Regions from separate parts of the Homo sapiens genome. Here region 2 is reported to be linked to region 1. The links are microRNA targets in miRTarBase. Many come from high-throughput screens and were not tested one by one. Region 1 holds a microRNA gene; the other region holds the end of a gene's coding sequence.

What was found. The annotated mature microRNA hsa-miR-7153-5p reads UGAGAACUGACAAAUGUGGUAGG and lies in region 1 at 2,228-2,250, shown strand. An mRNA with a match to its seed (bases 2 to 7 or 8) in the 3' UTR can be bound and repressed. Matches are read on the target gene's strand: a 7mer-m8 pairs with bases 2 to 8, a 7mer-A1 pairs with bases 2 to 7 and ends in A, and an 8mer does both.
Region 2: miRTarBase lists ALG10B as a target of hsa-miR-7153-5p. The part of its 3' UTR that is shown has no 7-base or 8-base seed match.

The regions. Positions count from the first base shown.
Region 1 is chr18:11,653,897-11,657,168 of GRCh38, reverse strand. MIR7153 (microRNA 7153) reads left to right here and starts at 2,228; the gene lies at 2,228-2,284.
Region 2 is chr12:38,320,666-38,323,937 of GRCh38, forward strand. It overlaps ALG10B (ALG10 alpha-1,2-glucosyltransferase B), which reads left to right. Exons shown (of 3, transcript NM_001013620.4): 3 at 1-3,272. The coding sequence ends at 548. Among named protein-coding and RNA genes, the nearest start is that of ALG10B, 5.5 kb to the left of the region's middle.

The DNA.
Region 1 (3,272 bases):
AAAGTATTTACAATCGAATTTCCTAAAGAAGTGGACTGGCTGCACAGATTGTGGTCGCTGTCCTTCATGCTTGTGCTGGTATTTAGAGCACAGTGTCTCTGTCTTACCCCCCAAAGCAGCTCTGGACTCAATGTCTAATGAGCATCTGAGATGGCACCCCACCTTTTTAGTTTTGCTGTTTAAAAATAGTTTCACAAATGACTTTCCTCTGCTAGGGAGCAAATGTCAAAACACTTTCTGAGAACTCCCATGACCTGACTGTTGAAGTGACAAAGCCTATATCCCTTAGAACAAAGTAAATTCTGGTGCTTCTTTTTTGGTGTCTGTTTTGTATTGTATCTATTTTTTAGAGATGGGGTCTTTCCATGTTGCCCAGGCTAGAGTGCAGGGGGGGCATGATCATAGCTCATTTTAGCCTCCAACTCCTGCACTCAAGTGATCCTCGCACCTCAGCCTCCCGAGTAGTTGGGCCTACAGGTGGTGCCACCACACCAAGCTCTGTCTGTTGATTGGGATGCAGCTAGGGTGGGGTGAGTGGTAGAGGTAGATTCATTGGCACAGGAAGGCCCCCACACACATGAGACCAGAGGAACTGGCTCCATCCCTGTGTCTGACTTGCCTTTGTTGTAGAAGCAATGGTCCAGCTCCCAGGTCTAGAGGCTTGAGTTTGTTAAAATGTGCTGGACATCCAGACAAATCAGACACTTTTTATGGAAAGCTATATAAAGGACACCATCCTTCCTAACAATACCACAGAGATTCAAGGGATTCAAAAATCGAGAATGAAATCCGTTCCAAAGCACGATACTGATGGCCTAATTTTGGCTTATGTCCTGCTGAGTTACCCCCAGTAGTGGGCCTGAGCCCCTTGGGGGAGGGACAAAGTAAAAGGTGGGTTGGTTGGGGAGAAGTGTTGACCTGGAAGTTGTAGCTGAACTTCAGTAAACTCTTTTATGAGGGGTATAAGCTTTGCACCCTGATTACGTACTAGAAAGATAATTGCTATTCAAACTTAAAAATGGCTACATGTACTATCTTGGTTTCCAGTGCTCCACAATCTGGTTGGAGTCCCATCTATTCTTTCATGCTTAGTTGGAATCTTCTTCCCTAGCTATATTGATTAAATAGGGATGAATCACGCCCTTAACCACGCTCAGAGCACTCCTGAGATAGTATCTTCTTTCCCCTTTGTTATCAGTTCCTCAAAGACAGGAGGATGTCTCTTATGTGTTTATATTCCCAGGGTTTCATACTTAGTACTTTTTTGATGTGCTTACCTCTTTGAAGTTTTAGGGAACTTGCTCAATAATAAAGACTAGACATTGAATTTGCTGTCGAGATGTTCAAAGCTGAGGCTTTTTTTTTTCTTTTGCTGTGATTCCAGAAAATCCTGTCTTCCATCTGTGTTTGGGAGGCAACTGAGCGGTCTCGCCTGGCAGTTTCCTGTTGGGCTTGTTTCTTCAGCGGACCCAGGTCTGGTGTTCCTTCTCTGTCCCTCACCACGACCTCTCTACTATTGAACTTATAAAAGGGGAGATAAGGAGTGTAAACCATTTAGAAAACATATGTTTGATATTTATAGCTACAGAAGATATTTAAGGTGTGATTGATCACACGTGAATTTCCTTCCAAACAACAAACCGAGCTGGGAAAACACTCAGTGGTGTAGACCGCCCCCTGCTGGCCTCGTTCCGAACCCCAGAGCGCGCCGGTGCCATCCCGTCGCGTTGCCGCAGGGAGGGGAGGAGTACCGTGCCCACACCTAGGAATGTATCTTCGTGGAAACCCCATGGCACAGGGTGTTGTGTCCTTTGGAGCCCCTCCTCGCAGCTGTGAGCTATTTACTAATAGCTATCACGTGGGGAGGTTGTGTTGCTTTAAAAATGGAATGATATTTCTGCTTTACAGTTTTCCTAAATCTGGGCATCTAGTGAAGCTGTCCTTCGGGAATTCACGCTCCAGCTGGAAGCCAAAGGGGGAGGGCTGTGTTCTCTGAGGGAGTTGGAGGTCACCCCGTGCTGGCGAAAGGTCTGGGAGTGGAGCTCAGGAGGTCTGCCTTTGACTCCGGCCTCCTTCTCCAAACTGGGGGTTTCCTTGTCAATGGAGTGGTTTGACTAGGTGATTTCTAAGGACCCTTCAGCTGTGTCATGGTGGGCAGCACCGTCCTGCCTTCCTGGAGCTTACATTCCAGCTAGCGTGTTTACTCGAGCTCCTGTGCTCGGTGTGGTGAGAACTGACAAATGTGGTAGGTGGTCGAAGTCATCCACACCATGGACGGTTTACCACTTCTGTGACCGGACCCTGAAGTCGGGATTTGCTGGGAAGCACACAGGTGCACCCATCTCCTTCCAGGTCACTGCCCCAGTCAATTCGTGCTGGCTGAGGCCGTCTGCGCATCCAGCACTCCTTGGTAATTCTTGTATGTCTTCATTCCGCTTTTCCTGCATTAAGCATGGAAGCTCTTTCCAAACTTCTTGGTACCCGGGTCCTTTGATCCTCCTGCCCCTGCTGCTTACTCTCTTAGCAGAAAACCCTACCTCCCTCCTGCAGAAAAGACGCTGTCTGAATTGCTAGCCTTCCCCTCACTACTGGCTGGCTCTCATCAGTGTTGAATTTACCTTTGCCCCAACCAAAAAGCCAAAATACTGGATGCTGCATTTGCCACCTGCATTCCATATCTCATATCTTTCCTTCCCTTCACAGTCAAATTTCTTGAAAGCAGTGTCTACATCCACTGTCTTCCTTTCTTGCCTCGACTTGTTCCCGAAGCCACTGCAGGCTGGCTGACTTCCTCATCTCCACTCCACCGAAACGGCATCATTTCAAGGTCCCCCAGTACCTGCATGTTGCTGAAGCCAGTGGGCACCTAACACTTTTTGTTTGGGGCACTAGACCATTCCCCATGCTCTCGATCAATGCTCCTGGTTTCCCCCTTCATTTCAGCTGCTTATTTCCTGTGGTAAGGGTCCTGCTTGCTTTTTGTCTTCCTTTGCGTTCTTTCCCAGATGTTTTTCGGTTTTGCTCCCCATCCTGCCACCACGGGAGCAGAAGAGGCAGGTGCAGGGATGCAGAAGCACAGCAGGGAGGTGCTTTAGACGGGTTGGCTAGAAGGCCTGTGGAAGAGGGCATTTGGCCTTGCTCATTTCAGAATTCCTGCGAAGAGAGCACAGGGGCAAGGGCCTTCCCTAGATTACAAATGGAAATGAAGCACAAGCTTGAGTGCCAGAGCAGCATCAGCTGCTGTGTGGCGTGGGAAGGGACCCCGACGTCCT
Region 2 (3,272 bases), not on the chromosome of region 1:
TCTACTTTTTTTCATTTACTCTCTTTTTTTCTTTTCCTCATCTCCTGTCTCCTAGCAAAATTAAGACTTTTCTTTCCTTAGTTTGGAAACATGGAATTCTGTTTTTGGTGGTTACCTTAGTCTCTGTGTTTTTAGTTTGGAAATTCACTTATGCTCATAAATACTTGCTAGCAGACAATAGACATTATACTTTCTATGTGTGGAAAAGAGTTTTTCAAAGATATGCAATTCTGAAATATTTGTTAGTTCCAGCCTATATATTTGCTGGTTGGAGTATAGCTGACTCATTGAAATCAAAGCCAATTTTTTGGAATTTAATGTTTTTCATATGCTTGTTCATTGTTATAGTTCCTCAGAAACTGCTGGAATTTCGTTACTTCATTTTACCTTATGTCATTTATAGGCTTAACATAACTCTGCCTCCCACATCCAGACTTGTTTGTGAACTGAGTTGCTATGCAATTGTTAATTTCATAACTTTTTACATCTTTCTGAACAAGACTTTTCAGTGGCCAAATAGTCAGGACATTCAAAGGTTTATGTGGTAATATCAGTGATATTTTGAACTGTAAAAATGGACTTAATAATTAGACCATTTCTACAAAGAACAACTGAATAGGTGGAAAACATGGAATTTCTTTTAGGTGCAGTGGTGGTCCTCAAATTACATTAGTTTTTTTAATATATATTTTAAACATATGTAAGAAATTAAGTGGCAAAGAACTGGGAAAGCTTAAGACCTGCTTCAAAAGCCTGAATAATGGGAAAATAAAATTGTTTTCAGATATCTCATATCGCTCTCGTAATGTTGGCCCCTCACAAAGCTTGGGAATGTTTTGTATGTATAAGTTTATTAAAACTGGGTATGCTTCATATTACTAGAACTAATTTATTCTCTTCAGAGAGAACTATTAGGTTAGTGCAAAAGTAATTGTGGTTTTTGCCATTGAAAGTAATGGCAAAACCACAATTACTTTTGTACCAACCTAATAACAATGTGTTAGCAAATATTTACAAATGGTCAGGTGATATTCTTGACTGAAAAGTTCCTTAACATTTCAGTAAATATAATTTTAATTCTAAGTCAAAATAGAAATGCATAGATAGTAAATGATAAAGTAGAGACTCATATATGTCTGTCTAGGCATCAAATTGTTGGTTATTGTTTACAATCCAGAAATGATGAAGCTCTTTCACTAATTCCTAATATGAAATGTATGATGGCCAAAGACAAATTGTGTTGATTATAATCCTTTAAAAGGGGGATTTCCTTTATGAAATACATATTGTATTAGCTTCCCAGGGCTGCCATAACAAATGACCACAAACTTGGGTGCTTACAACAATTTTCCTCACAGTCTGGAGGCCAGAAGTCTAAAATCAAAGTGTCAGCAGAGTTGGTTCCTTCTGGAGGCTCTAAGGAAGAATCCATTCTATGTCTGTTTCCTAATATCTTGTGGCTGTCTGCAATTCTTGGAGTTCTTTGGCTTATGGGCATATCTTGTCTAAGTATTGCAGACAGCAATCTTCACTCCAGTCTCTGCCTCTGCGTTCACACGGCCTTTCCCTCTGTCTTTTCATTACCTTTTAAGGACAGTGTCTTTGAATGTAGGGCCCACCCTGATCTAGGGTGATTGTGTCTGGAGACCCTTAATTATGTTTACAAAGACCCATGTTCCAAGTAAGTTTGTATTCACATGTTCTGAGTAGACATTGTCTCTTCATGGGATACTTTTCAGTCCATGACAGTTACTAAAGGACATTTTAGGATAATCCTCATATGATTGTTAGGAGACTACCTTTAAAAATTTTTTATTATATATCAAATTATAGTTGTATATACTTATGAGGTACGAAGTGGCATTATGATTTTTGAATATAATGTGGGATGATTAAATAAAGCTAATCTATCCATCACCTCAAATATTTGACATATTTTGTGATGAAAACATTTGAAATGTACTCTCAACAGTATTGAAATGTACATACAGTGCTTAATTATTAGCTGTATTCACCATGTTGTGTAATAGATCTAAAAAAAGTCAAACATATTCCTTCTATCTAATTGAGGCTTTGTATCTTTTGATTGTCATCTCCCTATTCCCACATCCCCGGCCTCTAGCAACCATCATTCTTCTCTCTACTTCTGTGAGTTTAATTGTTTTAGATTACACAAATAAGTGAGATCATGTGGTATTTGTCTTTCTGTGCTTGGCTTATTTCACTTACCATAATGTCCTCCACGATCATCCATATTGTTGCAAATGACACAATTTCTTCCTTTTTAAAGGCTGAATAGTATTTTTTTGTATATATATGCCACATTTTCTTTATCCATTCATCCATGGATGGACACTTAGGTTGATCGAATCACTTGGTTATTGTGACTTGTCTGCAATGAACATAGAGTGCAGACTTCTCTTTGACATACGGATTTCAAATCTTCTGGATAAATAGCCAGAAGTGGGATTGTTGGATCAGGAGATAATATCTTAGCTGATACCTTTTAAATAACTCTCAGTATCTTTACTGAGAGGTTAAAAAATAAGTGACTTCTTAGGTAATATAAAGCTAAAGGTGACTAGTGTTTGATTCCATTATCTATTAAAAAAAGTCAGAATTGAAAGAAAGTTGAGAAATCCTTTGGTCTGACTTTGTAGATTAGGGAACAACTGCTGGGGTAGGATTATTTTGTGTTACTTTTTGAATTTTGTGTTTATTATTTTGAGTGTATTTTTTGGGTTGTCATTCCATTACAGGAAAGTATTATTTGGGCATGTTAACTTTGACATGTAAACTTAGAATTGTGAATAGAACTCATCTTTTAACATAATTTTATGTTTCTAAACTTTAAAAGTAGCTATAAGTGAACAAATTACTTTCCCCTCAATGTCAAATTTTGCTTCTCTGAGTTTTAAGTGATGAGTCTACATTTACAAATATAAAATTGTGTGCAGGTGAAAATTACAAGTATAATTTGAGTAATAAATGCAGGCCATTTTTTGGTTGTACTCTAGTACTCAGAAAATAGATCGGCATTAGTTATAACAGTGATTGTAGAAAAACGTGTTTTACCCAGACTTCTTAAAAATTAGATGAGAGAGGACACTCAAAGAAATTATACTTTTGTCATTAATTTACTATAGTGGAGAACTAAATCTGGGAAGTCAAAATTGAAAAAAGAATGTGTAATTTAGGGAAAGTAACTTTTTGTCTGATAATATTAATGCAAGGATTTTGTATTTAGGAATACTTCTGAGAGGAGAAGCTTC